Homo sapiens: one gene and its partners. The protein of the gene in region 3 interacts with the protein of the main gene of each other region in a biochemical or structural test. Each region holds a gene or a part of one and is shown on either strand. Other genes may lie near its edges.

Region 1 (7,027 bases), on a different chromosome or scaffold from region 3:
TGGGTTTAATTTCAGTCAGAATTGGCTAAATTACTAGTCACAGGCAAGAGATGTTAGGTTCATTATGTAGCTATGGAAGCAGAAGTACACTCATTGGTAGGATTTTTTTTCTTCATGTCATTTGAAATGCATACATTAGGATTGGAGTTTTTTGCTTTAGGCTTGGTTATATTAAAACTTTCTCTTGCTGTTTGGAGTCCAGGAAGCCCTGAATTACCTTCTTCATTTTAGTTATGCTAGAAGCTGGGGCACATATTAGTTGTCTTGATTAAGCTCTGAAAGGGGTTTGCTGAGGAGACAGGATCTTTTTTTTTCTAACATTATATATGAGAGAGAGTTCTGAAAAGACCTGTTATAAAATCAGTTTCAGGCACTTTTCCCTTGTATGCTGTTGTGTGTTTGAAGGTCAGTTTTAAAGCATTGGTGTAATAGTCTCATGGTTTATCTTTTTAAAAAGCATTGCCTCAAGAGAGCTGTGGATAAATATATTTAATTAGTAAAGCTAAAAAGTTTTGTTGTCTTAAGTTATTTCTTTGGTAGCAAATAAATCTTCACAAGAACCTAATTTTTTTTTTCTGTTGATTTTCTATTTTGGCAGGAACTTGATCTCAAAATAGCAATTAAGTCTTGTCGCCTAGAGCTAAGTACCAAAAACAGAGAACGATGGTGCCATGAAATCCAGATTATGAAGAAGTAAGTGTATTCCTTGACTTACATTTCCCTGGTTCTACAGCCCAACCAGATGTCATCATGGGGAAAGAGGCCAGGAATCCACTCTTCTCAGGATCTTTTTGGGAACATATATTTTTTTCTCTCATTAAATATATTCTATTTCAAATAATAATATCACATTAAGATTAAGAAGGTTTAGTTAAAATCAGCTAGGACACTTACACACTGTTGGTGGGAATGTAAAATTGTGCAACTGTTACGGAAAACAGTACGGTGATTCCTAAAAAATTAAAAATAGAATTACCATATGATCCAGCAATTCCATTTCTGGGTATATACAAAAATGAATTGAAAGCAGGGACTTAAAGAGTAATTTGTACACTCATATTCATAACATTATTATTCACAATAGCTGAAAGGTAAAAGCAACCCAGTATCTACCAGCAGAGACATGTATAAACAAAATGTGGTATATTCATGAAACGGAATATCATGCAGCCTTAAAAAGGAATGAAACTCTGACACATGCCACAGCATGGATGAATCTTGTGGACATTATGCTAAATGAAATAAGCCAGTCACAAAAAGACAAATACTGTGTCATTCCACTTATGTGTGGTACCTAGAGTAGTCAAACTCACAGTGAAAGAAAGTAGAATGGTGTTTGCCAGAGGGTGAAGGGACCAGCAAATAGAGAATAATTTTTAATAGGTGCGGAGTTTCAGCTTTGCAGAATTAAACAGTTTTGTGCAGTATAGTGATAGTAGCAAAACATTGTGAAAGTATTTGATGCCAGGCTGGGCATGTTGGCTCACACTGTAATTCCAACACTTTGAGAGGCTGAGGTGGGTGGATTGCTTGAGCTCAGGAGTTCGAGACCAGCCTGGGCAACATGGCAAAACCCCATCTCTACAAAAAATATAAAAACTAGCTATGTGTGGTGGTGCATGCCCGTAGTCCCAGTTACTTGGGAGGCTGAGGTGGGAAGATTGCTTGAGCCCAGGAGGTCAAGGCTACAGTGAGCTGAGATCATACCACTGTACTCCAGCCTGGGTGACAAGAGCAAGACCCTGTCTGAAAAAAAAGGAAAGCATCTTGATGCCACTAAACTGTACACTTAAAAATGGTTAAGGTGGTAAATTTTATGCTATGTGTGTTTTACCACAATCAAAAAACTATTTCATTTCAGTTAACAAAAGTCAGCTAGGGCCGGGCGTGGTGGCTCACACCTATAATCCCAGCACTTTGGGAGGCCAAGGCGGATGGATTACCTGAGGTCAGGAGTTTGAGACCAGCCCGGTCAACATGGCAAAACCCCATCTCTACTAAAAATACAAAAATTAGCCAGGTGTGGTGGCGGGTGCCTGTAATCCCAGCTACTTGGGAGGCCGAGGGAGGAGAATTGCTTGAACCCGGGAGGCGGAGGTTGCGGTAAGCTGAGATCATACCACTGCACTCCAGCCTGGGCGACTCCGTCTCTAAATAAATAAATAAATAATAAAAAATAAATTACCCCAACATTTAGTGGCTTAAAATAGCAAACATTTAGTATCTTATAGTTTCTGTGACTTAGGAATTTGGGAGTGGCTTAGCTGGGTGATTCTAGCTTAGAGTCTTTCCTGAGACATCTCAGGATATTGGTCGGAGCTGCAGTAATCCAAAGGCTTGACTGGGGCTGGAGTATCTGCTTCCATGCTCACTTATATGAATGTTGGCCAAAAGCATCAGTTCTTCGCCATGTGGGCCTCTTCATGGGGAAGCTTGAATGTTTTCATGACATGGAAGCTAGCTTTCCCCAGAAAGATCTTTTCCTCAGAAAGAGTGAGTGATCTGAGAGAGAGAGAGAGAGAGAGAGAGTGAACGAGCGAGCAAGATGAAAACCGACGTATCTTTTATGATCTTTACTTGGAAGTGAGACTCCATCCTTTTCCACCACATTCTGTTTGTTACAGTGAGTCACTAAGTACAGCCTACATTCAAGGGGAGGAGAGTTAAGCTCTTAAAAAGAGAAGTAGACATATTTTAAAACTTCCACAGGTAGTGTGCTAAGTACTTTACAGATCATTCTTCCAGTTATCACAGCAATCTTATATTTAGGTATTATTTTGCAAATGAGGAAGTTGAAGCTTATAGAATCACATAGCTGGTGGTTGGTAAAGTGTGGATTTGAAATAAATACTTTCTGACTCTAATATCTGTGCTTAATTCCATTTTGATTCTCAAACTTGGTTATGTGGCAGAATCACCAGGAAAGCTTAATAGTATAAATTATCAGGTCCTACATGTACATGGAAATTCTGTTTGCTTCTTTTTCTTTTTTTCTTTTTTTTTTTAAAAGAGATGTGGTCTTGCTATGTTACCCAGGCTTGACTTGAACTCCTGGGCTCAAGCAGTCCTCCCACCTCAGCCTCTGGAGTAGCTGGGACTATAGGCATGCGCCACCACACCCGGCTAATTTTTAATTTTTTGTAGAGATGAGGTCTCACTGTGTTACCCATGCTGATCTCGAACTCCTGGCCTCAAGCAATCCTCCCACCTCAGCCTCCCAAATTGTTGGGATTACAGTTACAACTACACCCAGCCTAGAACGCCAGATTTGACTTACTCACTGTGTGATCTTGTTACTTAGCCAATTTGTGCTTCAATTTTCTCCTGTGTGGTGAAAGTATTAATAAATCTACCTATAATAGGATTATTGTGACAAGTAACTGAGTTAATATATTTAAAATGTTTACTGCTTGGCACTTAGAAATGTAATAGTAGTAATAGTGATGGTATTTTTATGTGTGTTTTCTTTTAAAAAATTACTAATTTTTAATTATACAAATCAGAAATTAGAATATTATAAATAATACTGATCTTTCCCCCTCTGTTCATCCACCCACAATTAAGTAGCATTTCAAATCCAGTCCCTTTTTATTGGAAATAATTTTTTTTATTGTAATGTTTTTCTTTCTTATTAGGTTGAACCATGCCAATGTTGTAAAGGCCTGTGATGTTCCTGAAGAATTGAATATTTTGATTCATGATGTGCCTCTTCTAGCAATGGAATACTGTTCTGGAGGAGATCTCCGAAAGGTAGTGTGGATGTTTTGAGATGAGAGAGAGTAAATCACAAACTTTAGCAATGTTTGAATCATGTTAAATATAATAAACTAGAATAAGAATCGGAAAAACTATGGTCTGCTTCCTGTTTTGTAAATAAAGTTTTATTGGAACACAGCCACATTCATTTCTTTACACATTGTCTATGGCTGCTTTCTTATGGCTGCAGAAGTGAGTAGTTTTAACAGAGACTATGTGACTTGCAAAACCTAAAGTATTTACCATATGGTTCCTTACAGAAAATGTTGACTCCTGATTTAGAAAATGCATTTTTGTTGTTGCTGTTTGATGGGACTATAGCAATGGTGTTAGATGAAAATTTCAGTGGTTAAGGTGCTTATAAAAAGTTGTTTTCTGTATTGCAATCTTTTTTTTCTACCTAATTTTAAATGTGCCCATATGACCATTTTTATATATATCCATGAGATTTGTCAGCCTTTTCCAGTTTCAAATGCTTTTTGCCTCTTTTTACTTTTATGAGCCTTATCATGAAATTTACATGCCCTCAGTATGGATTTGGTAATTTTATTCCCTTGTATTTTATTATGACTTATTTTCTCATTTGAATATTCTTTTAGAGTATAGTAATTAATGTGTGGTCACTATTGCAGCCCAGCAATTTGCAGAACAGATTTTTAGATTTCTTTCTTTTTTTAGCTGCTCAACAAACCAGAAAATTGTTGTGGACTTAAAGAAAGCCAGATACTTTCTTTACTAAGTGATATAGGTACGTATCAGTATTAAAATACCATTGTAATGTAATGTCCCTTTGGCCCATAAAAGATCTTTTTGGGAATTCAGGAGAATTGTTGATACACTATACAAAGTCTATAGAATTTCAACATCTATAAGAAGTTATAAAAATCTATTACTATTGATGCTAAATTAAAACTAGGATATTTTGGCTAGGTGCGGTGGCTCACGCCTGTAATCCCAGCACTTTGGGAGGCCAAGGTAGGCGGATCACAAGGTCAGGAGTTCAAGACCAGCCTGGCCAACATAGTGAAACCCCATCTCTACTAAAAATACAAAAATTAGCTGGGCACAATGCCGCATGCCTGTAGTCCCAGCTACTCGGGAGGCTGAGGCAGGAGAATCGCTTGAACCCAGGAGATAGAGGTTGCAGTGAGCCGAGATTGCACCACTGCACTCCAGCTTGGACAACAGAGTGAGACTTTGTCACACACACACAAAAAGAAACTAGGATATTTTATTATTTATTTGTGGCTAAGAGTCCTTTTTTTGTCTAATAGATGTTCCAATAGCTGACAAAAAAATCATGTGAAATGACCTTACTCAATTTCTCTCCCCCCCTACCATTGACATAGTAATTTTGTTTACAGTGGAATTACATCTCCTTGAGGGATGGGTCCTCAAGTCAACTCTTTTTTGTTTGTTTGTTTTGAGACGGAGTCTAGCTCTGTTGCCCAGGCTGGAGTGCAGTGGTGCGATCTCAGCTTACTGTAACCTCTGCCTCCCAGGTTCAAGCGATTCTCCTGCCTCAGCCTCCCGAGTAGCTGGGATTACAGGTGCCCGCCATCACACCTGGCTAATTTTTGTATTTTTAACAGAGACGGGGTTTCACTGTGTTGGCCAGGCTGGTCTCAAACTCCTGACCTCGTGATCTGCCCGCCTCGGCCTCCCAAAGTGCTGGGATTACAAGCGTGAGCCACCGCACCCAGCCAAGTCAACTCTTCAGGGTGAAAAATCTCTGCTTAATCAGAATGACTCCAGAAAAATTCCTAAAATAACCAGTACCTAACCTTTTGGAGGAACCTCAAAAACCAAAAATTTGTTTCCCCATAGATTTTGGTTTTGCCTCTTTTCCAAGGTCATGAGGGCTAAAGTCCAATTGAAATGAGTGATTTAGGTGGGAGAAAGAGGCTTATAAGAGTTTCAGGGATTTTCCCAATTGCTTGTTGCATTTCTATTTGGTGTTAATTCTAATGAGTTAAATGAACATATAGTATAATTTTGTAGTATTTGTTTAATGTTACTTTTTTTTCTGTGAAGAAAACCTGGACACTGTAGTATTAGTTGTGTAGTTACGATGATCCATATAAACTTGAGCATCAGAGTAGATTTGTACAAAATGTGAGGTGAATTTTTCTTTTAACTCAATGATTTCTGTTACTTTAAAGTATATTTTAAACTTTATTTAGGGTCTGGGATTCGATATTTGCATGAAAACAAAATTATACATCGAGATCTAAAACCTGAAAACATAGTTCTTCAGGATGTTGGTGGAAAGGTAGGTGAAACCTGAAGTAATGTTTCATGCCTATTGAATATAGTCTCTCTGATATAGTTAGTCCTTGAGCTTTGGTGTCTTTGCTGTATGCCCATAACAGTCTTACTTTTTCCATTTCAGACCTCACCACACTGAACTGTAGTTTTGTGTTTAGTTTTTTTGTCCCTTCTGCTAAACAGTGGTTCCATCAGAGAAGGAACAGCACCTGCTTTTTTTTTCTTTTTCTTTTTTTTCATTTTTCATACTTAACCCAGCTCCTAGACTTCACCTGTCTTGTTCAAGTCTGTTTTTCCATCATAGTATCTAGCAAAGATACAGGCTGTGAATACATAATATGTTAACACTTATTATTTTATTCTTATGAAGCACATCCAAAACACATACATGCACATCCTGGGTCCACTTTAAGAAAAAAAAGAAAGTATATATATTTTTAAAACTTATTTTCCTTCCCCCAATTTAAATGAGTCATCTGGAGAAGAACCAGAAATTGTGAATTGACTCTTAAAATGTTCATTTCATTGGTAACTTAAGCAGTTTTCTTGTTTCCAGCATCCAAATTTCATTCCAATAAAGACTTAAAGGCCAAGAGTCTGAACCTTGTGTTGAGTTGTGTGTGCCGTCTCTTTAGTTAGTGAAAATAGTTGTTGGCCTCTTGGAGGTGTTGGAACCTTGGTGATGCCTCTTCTCTTAGGAACCTTTCACGTATGCTTGGCACCAAATATCTCTGCTTTTTTTTTTTTTAATCCAAAGACTTCAGGACATTCCTGAAGTTAGATCTAAGTATTTACTCACATTTAATCTACTATAAGGAGGTATGATGCTTCTTCAAGTTTGGAAGTCACCCTTGCCTTTACTTTCCAGTTTAATGGATTGAGCTTATTTTGAATATAGTAAAATAAAAATTAATAGCCCACCTGTATTCAATTTTTACCATGTACCAAGCACTGTGTTACCTTCTTTACTTTCGTTATTTCATTGGATCCTAATAACAATTCT
Region 2 (7,133 bases), on a different chromosome or scaffold from region 3:
GGGGCTCATTAAAACACAGATTGCTGGGCTTCTTCCTCAAGGTTTCTCACTCAGCCGGTCTAAGGTGAGTATGAGAATTTGCATTTTCGACAAGTTCTCAGCTGATGCTGGTCTGGGGAACCACAATTTGAAAACCATCGTCTTAGAGGAATAAATGCTGACCTTTTTTTTTTCCCATGGAAATATGCATGTGTACTCAATCTATAAACTTGACTAGCTTAGTTGGTTCTCTCTTGCATGTACCTGTAAGCAAAAACAGGGTACCACTTGTAACTTCAAATCAGAGTTCTGCCCATTCTGTCTCCACTTCATTTTGTTCAAGTTGCGACTGAGGAGCTCGGGCCATTTTTGGCCCTTTCCTACCCCTGAGGAGCCACAGTTCTTGCAGCTGGAGGATGGATTTACAATACGAACACTCATCTTTCCTCTACTCATGCATCCAGGGTCTGTCTTGCTTTATCGGGAGCCAGCAGGCTCCACCTTGAAAGATTCTCAAAGAACATCCCTGAGTCAGGGACTGACTGACCAAGGTGCTGAACCTCTCCCTCCTGTTGGGGGAAAAGTAGACTTGACTGGAGACATGGGTGGGAGACGAGACTGGGAGGCTTGAAAGCAAGGCTAACAGAGAAGGATGGTGGTGGAGGTGGAGTCAGGGGAGAGGGAGTGTCCTTGGAGATGCCCTTCTGCAGGCTTTAGTTGGTAAGTACCTTCCCACCAACCCAACTCCCCACCCCTGGGGTGAGGTCAGGGAATTAGGAAGTAAGTTGAAGTCTCAGCTTTCAGTTTCTGCACCCTGAACAGCTTGGTGATATTCACCTGACTACCTTAGCCAAAGAAACATCTTCAGTGCAATCCATTGTGTGTGGTCTGGGATGACAAGGGAAGAGATACTCTGGTGGAGTGCAACCTCTTCTTGAACATCCCTCAGGGCTCCAGCAGAGGCTGAGTTTGAAAGGCCTACAGTTCCTCTTCTCTCCTTTCCCCATCCCAGCCTCAGAGGTATCCAAAGACCAGGTGTCCCCAAGACAGCTCCCCTGGGACAAGAGACAAGAAACCTGAATTCACTATATTTTCCTCTTTTTCTGAGTCAGCCCCTTAATAGGTTAACAAGGAACCCTAACAGGTTGACAAGAAAGAATTGCATGAAAAGGAAGAAGAAGGCCCAACACTGCATCTGGGTTACAGAAAAGCATTTTGAATTTGCAGAATATCAGAGATAATTACATTCCATCAGAAATAGCAAAATGCTTTCTGAAATCAATCATACACACACACAAACACACAAACGCACATATGTAAATATGTGGAATGTTCTTTCTAGTTGTAGATAATCAGAAGCTGACCATGGTAGACTGATACTAAGTCAGAAGCTCACTCTGTGGAGTGAGACAGAGGCGGTTATTAACAATAGCATCACAGAACTGGGCGTGAAACTCTGGAGCTCTGCTCCCAGCAACTCCCCTCACTTCACAACAGCTCTAAGGGTTGTATTGTTTTTTGTTACCTCCAGGCCTTTAATTTGTCTGGTGAAGAGTAGGTGGTACCTCTGTCTGTGCACTCAATCACACCCCGTTCTCTCTGGAAACACACGTCTTCCTTCTCTTTTGTGTGTATTCAACCTCTCCCTCTCAACAGTCTTCCCATCAGATGTAAAATATGCTTGTGTCCTACTTCACTGCCCGACTCATCCATATTCACCACCTTTATTTTCTCACCTCCCATTCATTTCCCAGCCCACTCTAATTCACTTCTGGTTCTATTACTCCAGGATTCCAAGCCTCCTCTTATGTTTAATATTATTGATCAGCCCTTTCTTCTTGAACACCTCTCTCCTGGTTATCCTTCTATCTCCCTGGCAGCTCATCACAGACTCATCTTCCCCTTTGTGGCCCTTTAACACTGAAGTTCCCCAAGCCTGGTTGCAGGCCCTCTCCTCAGGCCTAGGCTGACCCATCTATCCCAAGGCTTCAAGGAATCACTCACTGTCAATGATTCGTCTCTTAACTAGCTGAACCTCAGCTCTGTATATCCAACCACCAACTTAACATCAGTTTTGGGCATCTCAAAAGCCTTCAAACAGCCAAACAGCCTGCTCTCATGATATTTTAATGCCAGTCTGGTCCTTTTCCAAGATTCCCATCTTGGTAAACCAGCACTAACATCCATCCTTGGCCACAAGCCAGAAACCTTTGAGTTTTCCTTGATGACTCCCTCTCCTTCATTGCCCCACATAACCCATCACTTGGAGAATGTGCAAGTTCTGCCCGTTGGACCTCCTAAATAATTCACAGATCTTTCCATGTCCATCAACTATTTCCATGACCATCACCCTAGATCAAGCTTCCACCTCTTACCGTCTAGGCTACTCCTACATCCACCTGGGCTCTTTCCAATAAGGAATCTTTTCAAGAAGCTATTCTGACCATGCCACACCCTTTGCTGAATATGTCAGGGGCTTCCCATTGCACTTAGGATAAAAAGATTTTCAACATGGCCAATATGGATGTCCTACGTTTGGTCCCTTTACCAATCTTCCTGACTTCATCTCATAGCTCCTTCTTCCTTGCTCCTCCAGCAGAGCTGGCCTTTCCTGAATTTCTCCATCTTATCCTGCTTAATCTCATCAGAGGACCTTTGCGTGCAAAGCTACCTCTAAAATATTCTCTGTCTAGTCAAACCTATTCCCAGCTCAAGTGACAGTTCCTCAGGGAAATCTTTTCTGGCCTTATTAACTAGTGTATTAATTGGTTTCATAGTATTATGTATCCTTAACAATTTGTATTATAAAACAGTGATAATTTTGCGTTTACTATTATTACTTTCATAGTACAGTGATTAAATCTGTAAACTCTACTGTATTGCCTGGCACTGAATGGGCATGCAATAAATAATTATTGCAGGAACAAAGGATGGCAGGAAGGAAATTAAGAAGGTTGAGAGGGAGGGAGAGAGGAAATGGGAAGAGAATGAATGAATAATCATCTGTATGTTCCCTTTCAGAATCACCAGAAACAGGCCAGCCCCACATGTAATAGGAAAGTAGTTTACCTGAAATCATTCATTTATTCAACAAATATTTATATATTCATTATTAAAGTAACTTACTTGTTTCTGATTGTGAACATAACTATTCCTCTCGGAAAACATGAGAAAATACCCAAAGTATAAACGAGAACCAAGTCACCCTTTATTCCATAGTCCAATGATGAACCATTGTTAACATAATTTGGTGTATTTCTTTCCAGGTTTTTTCTATGTGTATATATAGTATCTAAGTGGGACCATTCTATATATGACTTGTTTCTTGCTTCTTTCTCTTAATGATACATTGTGAACATGTTCCTATGTTGTTAAGAATTCCTTGAACACATGGCATTTAAATTGCTAAAATGTATTCTACCGAATGGTGTAGGTAGTTCAAACGCCTTTCCACCCGTTGTTGGATATTTAAAGGACTTGTCAATTTATCGCTTCTGTAACATTTACACGCTTTGTGGGGCCTCAGAAGTAAACCAGGTAATGCAAGGAATCTGGGAAGAGGTGGATTTGCAAGGAATCTCGGAGGAGGTGGATTTTGGAAAAACTGGAGGCAGCTTTTCCCGGGCAGCTGAAGAGAACACTTATCTCTCTGTAGGTTTCTGGGACCCGGACAGGTGTCCTCAGAATGGAACATATTGTCGGTCAAGGTAACCAGCTCTTCATCACTCAGGTGTGTGTACCGGAAGGGGGTGCCTGTTCGCTGCGCAGGTTAGGCCTAAGCGCACCTGCCCTTCAACCCTGTGCCGACGAGGCCCGAAGGCTTAAGCTCTGACCTGGCTACCGCCGCCAACCAGATGCGGTCCCCTGGGGCCACGCGCCGCCACGTGCCGCCACAGGGCCCGCCCCTCCCGCTCCAGGCCACGCCCCTCACCCACAGCCCTCGGAGGCTCTCTCCGCGGCTCCGCCTCCAAGCGACCTCCGCAAGTCCTCTCGTAACCCCTGGAGTAGCGCCGTCCCCGGGCGGCGGCCCCGCCCCCGCAATCCGGGCCCCGGGGCTGCCCCGCCCCGCCGGCCGCTCGGGAGGCGCGGGGGCGGGGCCCTGCGCGATGACGTGCGCGGGCGTGCGCGGTGACGGCCCGCGTCTCTGTTACTCAGCCGAGCGGCCGAGGCCGGACGACGCGGCTTGGATTGCGGAGCCGCGAGCAGCGCTGGGTAACGGCCGCGGCGACCACCCCGGACGGCCCCTGTCCCCGCTGGCGGGCTTCCCTGTCGCCGTTCGCTGCGCTGCCGGGTGAGTGCGGCGGACGCCGCAGGGCCGGGACGGCAGGCGGCCCCGTCGTGTTTATGTTATTGTGCCGCTGCCGCCGCCGCCGCCTTCTCCTCAGCCGTAACCCCCTCCTGGGAGTGGGGGCGGGAGCGCGCGGTGGGCGGGGGCGGCGCGGGAACAATAGCGGCGCGGAGGCGGGGGCCAGCCGAGGGGGCGTGGGGCTGCGGGACCTGGGTGCGCTCCGCTGCCCGCCAGCCCGCCTGCCGCCGCGAGCCCCGCCCGCCTGTCCTCTCGCGTCCTCTTCGCGTGGGTCCTGCCTCCGCGGCGGGAGAAGAAAATGGAGCGGGGGGGTGGGTGGCAAGTTCTGAAACACTTCGGCAAGGGTCGGACGGAGGTGTCTTTGCGGCCCGCCGCGCCCTGGCTGCCTCCGGGGCGGCGGGGAGCCGGGGAGAGCGCTTCTGCCGGCAGGTCCCCAAGCCTGCCCCGCGCCCATAGGGACCGTATTTTGCTTCTCGATGCTTTCTTTGTGCTAACGTTCTGGGCGAACGCAGGCAGCAGCGCTGAAAAGGGCCAGAGTGGCCTGCAGCTCTGGGCTGCAGGGCAGAGAGCCCAGGCCCGTGGCTCGGGTGGGAGGTGTCCATCCAGCTTGGCCCGAGCTTCGGTGGTCAGCGCGCATTTCTCTTGAGGGTCATCGGTGGTGACCTTTTGACTTTTTCACCCCACCCTCCCATCTCTTTGTCTCGCATTTGTGTTCCCGATTCAGAGATGGTAGAACCAAGTCCATTTTAAAGTACCCTGATGAACACTTTCCGTTTTTATTTCTGAAAGTTCCCTGCTTGGTCTTTACTGCGAATTTAATAACATGTTGACTACATGGCATTGTCCAGTGATTACTATTTTTACCTCTGAAATCCAGCGATCTTTCCAGTAGAATTCTGGTCCGTCAGTCCATTGTGTTTTGAGATAAGCATCCAGCAAGTACCTCCTTGGCAATTAGAACATCTGTTTTTTCATTCATTCATTCATTCAGCAGCTGTTTAGTACCGTACTCAGATGAAGAGGTTTGGTGTGAAGGTAAAGTATCCTTTCATGGAAGAGGATGCTTTGACTGAAGTATAATAGATGGACCTTTAAATGAGACAGTTACATAAGTGATGTCTGTTAAGGAAGGTATGGTTATATTCTGGGTCATTTTTTAAGCAGTATATCTGGAAGTTCAAGTGTAATAGGAAGTAGAATTAGATTTGGTCTAAATATACAACAGCTTTTATTTATTTCTAAATTTTATTTTTTCCAGTCTTGCAGCCTTACAGTCATTTGTAATGGTTACCTCAGATTCCCCTGCTGTGGTTAACGTTAAACCTAGGAGGTCAGATGCTCTAAGTGAACATGTTTAGTGCTGTGCCTGACAAAAGCAAGCAATCAAAATGGGACTTCCTTGAGGGCAGGCCTGTCTTGCATCTGTTTCTCCACCACCTAGCCTGGAATATAGTAAGTGTTCAATAAAAGTCGGATTGATGAAAAGCTCTTTGTAATTGATAATATTTAAAATCAAGCCTTAAAAAAAACCGTAATGTTCTCCATAAAGTTTTGGAAGCTTCATGCAACTGTCGCATCAGATGGCTAAATGGTCAGTTCATGTACATTATCTGTTATGATGACATGGGCTTTTGAATCACGTGTAGGTCATTCACTGTCCTAAAATAAAATCTTGTCTAAATATTTTTTTAATATGATAAATAAAGTAGGTTGTGGAGTGTGTGTTTCTGTGTATGTGCTAGTTTATGTGTGTCCGTGTGTGTGCATGTACGTAATCCACACACAGGCACTCATAAACTGGTATTTCAGTAGGGGTCTAAAATGATTGCATTTATAATTTTGTGAATATTATTTGAAAGTTTTTTGGTGACTCTTATTGTGGAAAATTGAGGACAAAACCACATAAATGTTTTATTAGAAATATTTCTAATATTTTAGAAATGTTTACTTGAAATGTTTGGTTTTAAGTTCTAACTTGTATTAACACAATTGGTACAAAATATGAGCCTAAAACTCAAAATAATTGATTTATCGAAGTTAAAGCTCTTTTCCACTTACTAAATACAGTTTAGCGTTTGTTTTGTATTTGAAAGAATATGAAATGAGTTAACTAATGAGTTTCTTATTATTTGCTGTAAAGTGGAAATGAAGAAATAAGAAAATAATACTTTTTTAAGATGATGGTTGAAAATCTTTGAGATACCAAAGTTTTATTGCTTTACCTAGTTAGGGTATGTCAGATTCTAGTAGGGGTTACTGACAATCCTTTGGCAGTAGCTCACAGGCTGTGTAAAGAACCAGAGTTGTGTTACTTTGTTTTCCAAATTGTTGGTTTTTAAAAATAGCTTTATTGCAATTTAATTGACATAAAATTCACCAGTTAGAGTGTATATATTTCGGTTTTTAGTATTTTCACAGTGTTGTGCCTTGATCACCATCACTAATTCCAGAACATTGTCATCACCCCAAGAAGAAACACCATATCCATTAGCAGTCACTCTGAATTTCACTTCAAATTATCCTTTAAAGTAAGAGATATAGCATCGATTCTGTTAGTAAATATATTCCTTTAGTAAGTATGAAAAGGGCTCCTTTTAAATGTCCTGTCCTGGCAGAATAGGAAACTATATCCTTCATACTCCTTTAGATCCTGGGGGAAATGCCATTTGGAAAGGAAGTCAGTGCAAGAATAAATTGTATACAAATTAATGTGGTTATAATCTTAACTATTTGCTCCATGCCTGATATTATCAAAGTGACCTTGTGAGGATGAGATGTTCAGTGAAACAACTTGAAGGAATTTGTTGTTAAATGACTAGTCCCCAACTATCCTAGTGCTAAGAGGTTG
Region 3 (7,027 bases):
TTCAGTAATTGGAACTTATATGGTAATGAATGTTTTTTTCTTTCAGGTATAAGAAGCTGCTGTCCCTCTTAACCTTTGCTTTGCAGTCCATTGATAATTCCCACTCAATGGTTGGCAAACTTTCCAGAAGGATCTACTTGAGTTCTGCAAGAATGGTTACTACAGTACCCCATGTGTTTTCAAAACTGTTAGAAATGCTGAGTGTTTCCAGTTCCACTCACTTCACCAGGATGCGTCGCCGTTTGATGGCTATTGCAGATGAGGTGGAAATTGCCGAAGCCATCCAGTTGGGCGTAGAAGACACTTTGGATGGTCAACAGGACAGCTTCTTGCAGGCATCTGTTCCCAACAACTATCTGGAAACCACAGAGAACAGTTCCCCTGAGTGCACAGTCCATTTAGAGAAAACTGGAAAAGGATTATGTGCTACAAAATTGAGTGCCAGTTCAGAGGACATTTCTGAGAGACTGGCCAGCATTTCAGTAGGACCTTCTAGTTCAACAACAACAACAACAACAACAACAGAGCAACCAAAGCCAATGGTTCAAACAAAAGGCAGACCCCACAGTCAGTGTTTGAACTCCTCTCCTTTATCTCATCATTCCCAATTAATGTTTCCAGCCTTGTCAACCCCTTCTTCTTCTACCCCATCTGTACCAGCTGGCACTGCAACAGATGTCTCTAAGCATAGACTTCAGGGATTCATTCCCTGCAGAATACCTTCTGCATCTCCTCAAACACAGCGCAAGTTTTCTCTACAATTCCACAGAAACTGTCCTGAAAACAAAGACTCAGATAAACTTTCCCCAGTCTTTACTCAGTCAAGACCCTTGCCCTCCAGTAACATACACAGGCCAAAGCCATCTAGACCTACCCCAGGTAATACAAGTAAACAGGGAGATCCCTCAAAAAATAGCATGACACTTGATCTGAACAGTAGTTCCAAATGTGATGACAGCTTTGGCTGTAGCAGCAATAGTAGTAATGCTGTTATACCCAGTGACGAGACAGTGTTCACCCCAGTAGAGGAGAAATGCAGATTAGATGTCAATACAGAGCTCAACTCCAGTATTGAGGACCTTCTTGAAGCATCTATGCCTTCAAGTGATACAACAGTAACTTTTAAGTCAGAAGTTGCTGTCCTGTCTCCTGAAAAGGCTGAAAATGATGATACCTACAAAGATGATGTGAATCATAATCAAAAGTGCAAAGAGAAGATGGAAGCTGAAGAAGAAGAAGCTTTAGCAATTGCCATGGCAATGTCAGCGTCTCAGGATGCCCTCCCCATAGTTCCTCAGCTGCAGGTTGAAAATGGAGAAGATATCATCATTATTCAACAGGATGTAAGTATAGATTCTTTAAGAGGTTAGAAAACTTCCTTGGGGCTGGGCACAGTGACTCATACCTGGAATTCCAGCACTTGGGGAGGCTGAGGCCGAAGGATTGCTTGAGCACAGGAGTTCGAAACTAGCCTGGTCAACAAAGCAAGACCCTGTCTCTACAAAAAATTTTAAAAATTAGCCAGGCATGATAGTGTACACCTGGGGTCCCAGCTACTCAGGAAGCTGAGGTGGGGAGGGTCACTTGAACCTGGGAGTTTGAGGCTACAGTGAGCTGTGATTACACCATTGTACTCTAGCCTGAATGACAGAGCAAGACACTGTCTCACAGAGAGCTTCCTTGGACCATACTAAAATAAACCTAATTCAGAAATGCTGCTTCTAACATTCAGAAGCAGAGTTTTCCACATAAAATTATTACTTATACAACAATAATGTTTGTACTGTTTAAACAGCAATAATTCTTGCCTATGGGCATTTCCGGTTAATTGTATAATGGTGATTACTTTTGCATTTGCTGTCGGTCACAAATACCTTCCATTCAGAGGTCACATTTATAGGTGGTTTGGGAAGCCAGACTGAATAAGAATAATATCTTGCAGACTAATTTCACAAAATCTTACTCCTTTAACAGTAAAAAGATTGCTTTCGTTTAATATGTAGACACCAGAGACTCTACCAGGACATACCAAAGCAAAACAACCGTATAGAGAAGACACTGAATGGCTGAAAGGTCAACAGATAGGCCTTGGAGCATTTTCTTCTTGTTATCAGGCTCAAGATGTGGGAACTGGAACTTTAATGGCTGTTAAACAGGTAAATATCTAGTGAGCATATAAATGAAATGACTCAAATCACAAAATGAAGCATGTTCAGTAAAAAGAATAAAGGATATGTCCACGTGTGTGTACTTTAGTTCTTTAAACTTTGAGAAACTTAGTTTCAAAGTAGATGTTTCTAAAGCACCAGAAACATCATGAATTCTGTTATTGTTAAAAGTTGAGGCCACGCGTGGTGGCTCACACCTGTAATCCCAGCACTTTGGGAGGCCAAGGTGGTTGGATCATTTGAGGCCAGGAGTTCAAGACCAGCCTGGCCAGCATGGTGAAACCCTACCTCTACTAAAAATACAAAAATCGGCCGGGCAGGGTGGTAGGCACCTGTAGTCCCAGCTACTCAGGAGGCTGAGACAGAAGAATTGCTTGAACTCAGGAGGTAGAGGTTGCAGTGAGCCGAGATCGCACCACTGTACTCCAGCCTGAGCAACAGAGCAAGACTGTCTCAAAAAAAAATAAATAAAAGTTGAAGTATGATTATTGTAAGACTACAATATCAAGATGGGCCTTACAAAGGTTTTTTTGGTTTTGCTTTTTGTAGGTAGTAGAGGTGGTTTTCAGGTACTTCTTTCAACAGTGTACTTGTGCGGTGCCATCTTGGGGTTTCAGTGGTTTACTTTTTATTATAACGAGCATACTTAATCAGGATAGGAAAATTATTAAACTTTCATTTTTAAATCATGTTGATTCTTCTCCCATATTTGGGCTTTTCTCATCTTTACTCTGAGACTATTGGAATATTGACTATATCCCAATATTTTTGTCATTTTTCTGATGTTTACTGCTGCTTAAGCTAGATTCTTAGTGTTTAAAAGAGTTTGACTTGGGTTTGTTTAAAGTACATTGCATCCATAAGCATAAATGCCATCTGTTGCTAATAAAGTGCTAGTTTGCATTTGTTCATTTTAGATCAGATTGCTAGTGAAAATATGCAAAACTTTGTGAACGTGTTTATTTGAAACAGGTGACTTATGTCAGAAACACATCTTCTGAGCAAGAAGAAGTAGTAGAAGCACTAAGAGAAGAGATAAGAATGATGAGCCATCTGAATCATCCAAACATCATTAGGATGTTGGGAGCCACGTGTGAGAAGAGCAATTACAATCTCTTCATTGAATGGATGGCAGGTATGTTAATGTTTTAAATTACAAAATAGTAGTACGTGGATTTAACTTTCTGCAATTTAGGAAAAACCAGTTTAATTAAAATTTATTTCTATCAAATAGTTTGGGTTTCTAAAAACAAATCACCCCAATATATTAGTATGAACCACAAATACTTCGTTTTGTATTTCATTTACTATAAATGAAATATTGACTACCTCTACCTTTTAAATTTTTCCAGTGTGTTTTTAAATGATTGTGTAGCATTGTTGTTTTTAATACTTGATATGTATAAGATATGTATATTTCCAGGTAGCCATGATAAATTGGACAGATGAGGAAGTGTTTTAACATAACAATATACAAACAAAATTAACATATAACTTGAAAACTTACTACAAGTAAACTAGCACTGAAGCATAAAGTTGAACCTTGTCATCTGCTGAAATAAATGAAGACTGAGTTTTATTTTGTATTATACAATGTATACAATAAAATTAATGACCTGATGTGATGAACAGATTGTTTGGTTTAACTTCTTAGATTTGTGTGTGTATTTAAGAGTGCATTTCTCTTTACCAGTCAGTTCTTAAGTATGTTATCTGTTGGTTGGTCTTAATAAAGATTTACACTACAGTAGATAGGTTGACTACTATAAACACTTTTAAAAGCGGCTAAATTTGAGACATGTTCCAGGTCAGAGCTAGTAAATGGTAGAATATGACGCCTAACTCTGGGTTTTCTGTTCCTCCTCCCATTCTTTCCACCTTTTACTACATAATATGTTAACATTGTTTACTTTAGTCATTAATAAAGTTGTTTTGTGTATTTTGAGAAGACAGAGAATTGAATTGTACATTTCAGAAATAGTTTAATCCGAAATTGTTAACTTTTACAGCTTTCTGAAATCTTGACTCTCCAATAAACTGGTTTCCCTGTGGGTTCTGTGAAAATGTCTCCTAATTAGTAGGTTTTTGAGATGATACAGGAATATGTTAGTTTTGAAATGTTTTTCTTCTGTTTCAGATGTGAATGTGAGTTCATGCAGTGAAAACTTTAGAAACCAAAGTGTAATAAATACTTTTAATTCTGTCTTAAGTTTATGATAATTATTTCTATTGTCTTATAGGGGGATCGGTGGCTCATTTGCTGAGTAAATATGGAGCCTTCAAAGAATCAGTAGTTATTAACTACACTGAACAGTTACTCCGTGGCCTTTCGTATCTCCATGAAAACCAAATCATTCACAGAGATGTCAAAGGTGAGAATTCTTCTAATTATTATCTAGTGACAATAAAAAAATTAATTTTAAAATTTGGGGCCAGGCACAGTGGCTCACACCTGTAATCCCAGTACTTTGGGAGGTGAAGGCAGGTGGATCACTTGAGGTCAGGAGCTCGAGACCAGCCAGGCCAACATGGTGAAACCCTGTCTCTACTAAAAATACAAAAATTAACAGGGTAAGGTGGCGCATGCCTGTAATCCTGGCTATTTGGGAGGCTGAGACAGGAGAATTGCTTGAACCCGGAAGGCAGAGGTTGAAGTGAGCTGAGATCACACCACTGCACTCTAGCCTGGGTGACAGAGTGAGACTCTGTCTCAAAGAAGAACAAAAAAATGGACCTTTGTTGATAGTTTCTAACAGTGGGATTTTTTTCTCTGAGTAATTCAGAATATTAGAACTGAAATGAGCCTTAGGGATCATTTAATCTGCCTTCCTCGTTTAATAGAAAAGTACATTGAATACAAGAGAGGCTGTGCCTTTTCTACAGTTTTATTGCTAGTTAATGGCAGAAAGTATACAACACAGGTCTCCAGATTCCCTGTCTTGGCCTCATGATACGCTGACTCCCAGAAAGTTCCTTTTCCTGGTTTTATTTTGAATAATTGGGATATTGGGATATCATCAACTTCTTTTAAGAAAAATTCCTTCAAATCCTTTGTAGGTCCCATTATTTTCCTTATCCTTTTCTTTTTTTTGGAGACAGGTTCTCTGTCACTCAGGCTGGAGTGTAGTGTTGCAAACTTGGCACACTGTAACTCATTTCCTGGGCTCAAGTGATCCTCCCACCTCAGCCTCCCAAGTAGCTAGGACAACAGGTGTGCACCACCATGCCTGGCTAATTTTTTATATTTTTTGTAGAGATGGGGTTTTGCCATGTTGCCCCCAGGCTGGTCTTGAACTCCTGGGCTCAAGCGACCCGCTTGCCTCAGCCTCCCACAGTGCTGAGATTACAGGCGTCAGCCACCGTACCTGGCCTCAGTTTATTTTTCTCAAGAGCAAATTTGGTTTTCTGTCATTAGTCTTTTTAGCTAGTATTTGACATAATGTGTTGAAGTAATTTTATAACTTTTTAAATTAAGCTCTAATTATGAATTTAGCGTACGCTAGAGAGAGCTGTGTGCCTTTAGCAAGAATGAAGTGAAAGGAAAAGAGAATAACTGTTTGCACCTCTGACATGTAGTTCACTTCTTTCTTTTGTCATTGTCCTAGTTCATTAGTATTGTACTGGGCTTTTATCTGTCCTTATTTTTGTTTTTAACATACAAGGTCATTTGCTGTGTTTGTTGACAGGTGCCAATTTGCTAATTGACAGCACTGGTCAGAGACTAAGAATTGCAGATTTTGGAGCTGCAGCCAGGTTGGCATCAAAAGGAACTGGTGCAGGAGAGTTTCAGGGACAATTACTGGGGACAATTGCATTTATGGCACCTGAGGTGAGAAGCATCTTTGAGTGTGATGACAGAAAATATTTTGGAATTCTGTGTAACAGCATTATACTAAATTATCTTGCAGTGGTATCCAGTATGTACTTACCAACTAGAAGTCCGTGGCCCTTAAAATACGGTTTTAATAATATCTTTCAGACCCTTATTCTCGACCTTTCTTTGCCTTGGCAATATTCAAAAAACAGGTTTTAATAGATTTACTTAACGGCTGTTACTAATAAAGAATTCTGGGGTAATTTATAGCAGTTGTTTTGTAATAAACTCAAAGTGCACATAAGAAATTTTTAAAAATATTCTCTCTCTATTCTAAAAGGAGATGAGCATACAGAGGCAGCTCCTGTCTGTAGTGGAAGGAGTTTAAGCATTGTTCTTCTGACTCAGCTTCTTCTGTCGTGTTCATAATTCTTCATGTTCATATGTAGTAATGATCTGTTGTCCTCTTGCCACATAGTTTGCTAAGAGCAAAATTCTGTGATGGGACTCTGCTTCAGAATCTCACAATTCTCCAAAATATTTTTGTGCTACCTGGAAAATTAAGCTCATTAATGAAATAAATTAGATATTAGGTAGTCCACAGAATTCCTGTTTGTACCAGTTTTCTCCCTAAAGTAAGGAAGTAGAATCTATAACTACAAAATGGCCTTCTCTTTTTCAAATGAGTCCTATTTCCAAATTAACTCTGATTTATTTTAGGTACTAAGAGGTCAACAGTATGGAAGGAGCTGTGATGTATGGAGTGTTGGCTGTGCTATTATAGAAATGGCTTGTGCAAAACCACCATGGAATGCAGAAAAACACTCCAATCATCTTGCTTTGATATTTAAGGTAATTGTGAGATAAAAATTACTTCTTTGTGCTAAAAGGAGTACAGCAGAATTTGGCAGGAGGCAAATTTTGATGGGTTCTCCCTAACAATCTAGCATGAAGGTAAATAAATAGTCTGTATATTTATTCAGAGAGGATTTGATATACAAGTTTTTTACTTTAAGATGGTGCAAAAGCAATACAAATTTGGTAA

The links.
Region 1: of the proteins of MAP3K1 (region 3) and CHUK, one has a biochemical effect on the other in vitro, tested with the Homo sapiens proteins (3 studies listed by BioGRID).
Region 2: of the proteins of MAP3K1 (region 3) and MAPK8, one has a biochemical effect on the other in vitro, tested with the Homo sapiens proteins (3 studies listed by BioGRID, with this or other methods).

Annotation. Positions count from the first base shown.
Region 1 is NC_000010.11:100,219,589-100,226,615, reverse strand, and holds part of CHUK (inhibitor of nuclear factor kappa-B kinase subunit alpha), read left to right. Parts: intron 1-598; coding exon 599-693; intron 694-3,635; coding exon 3,636-3,750; intron 3,751-4,434; coding exon 4,435-4,504; intron 4,505-5,939; coding exon 5,940-6,028; intron 6,029-7,027.
Region 2 is NC_000010.11:48,302,552-48,309,684, forward strand, and holds the start of MAPK8 (mitogen-activated protein kinase 8), read left to right. Parts: upstream 1-4,125; 5' UTR 4,126-4,270; intron 4,271-4,677; exon of another isoform or gene 4,678-5,737; intron 5,738-7,133. UniProt on the Homo sapiens protein: Serine/threonine-protein kinase involved in various processes such as cell proliferation, differentiation, migration, transformation and programmed cell death.
Region 3 is NC_000005.10:56,881,524-56,888,550, forward strand, and holds part of MAP3K1 (mitogen-activated protein kinase kinase kinase 1), read left to right. Parts: intron 1-46; coding exon 47-1,343; intron 1,344-2,003; coding exon 2,004-2,156; intron 2,157-3,140; coding exon 3,141-3,303; intron 3,304-4,408; coding exon 4,409-4,540; intron 4,541-5,854; coding exon 5,855-5,997; intron 5,998-6,702; coding exon 6,703-6,834; intron 6,835-7,027. UniProt on the Homo sapiens protein: Component of a protein kinase signal transduction cascade. Activates the ERK and JNK kinase pathways by phosphorylation of MAP2K1 and MAP2K4. May phosphorylate the MAPK8/JNK1 kinase.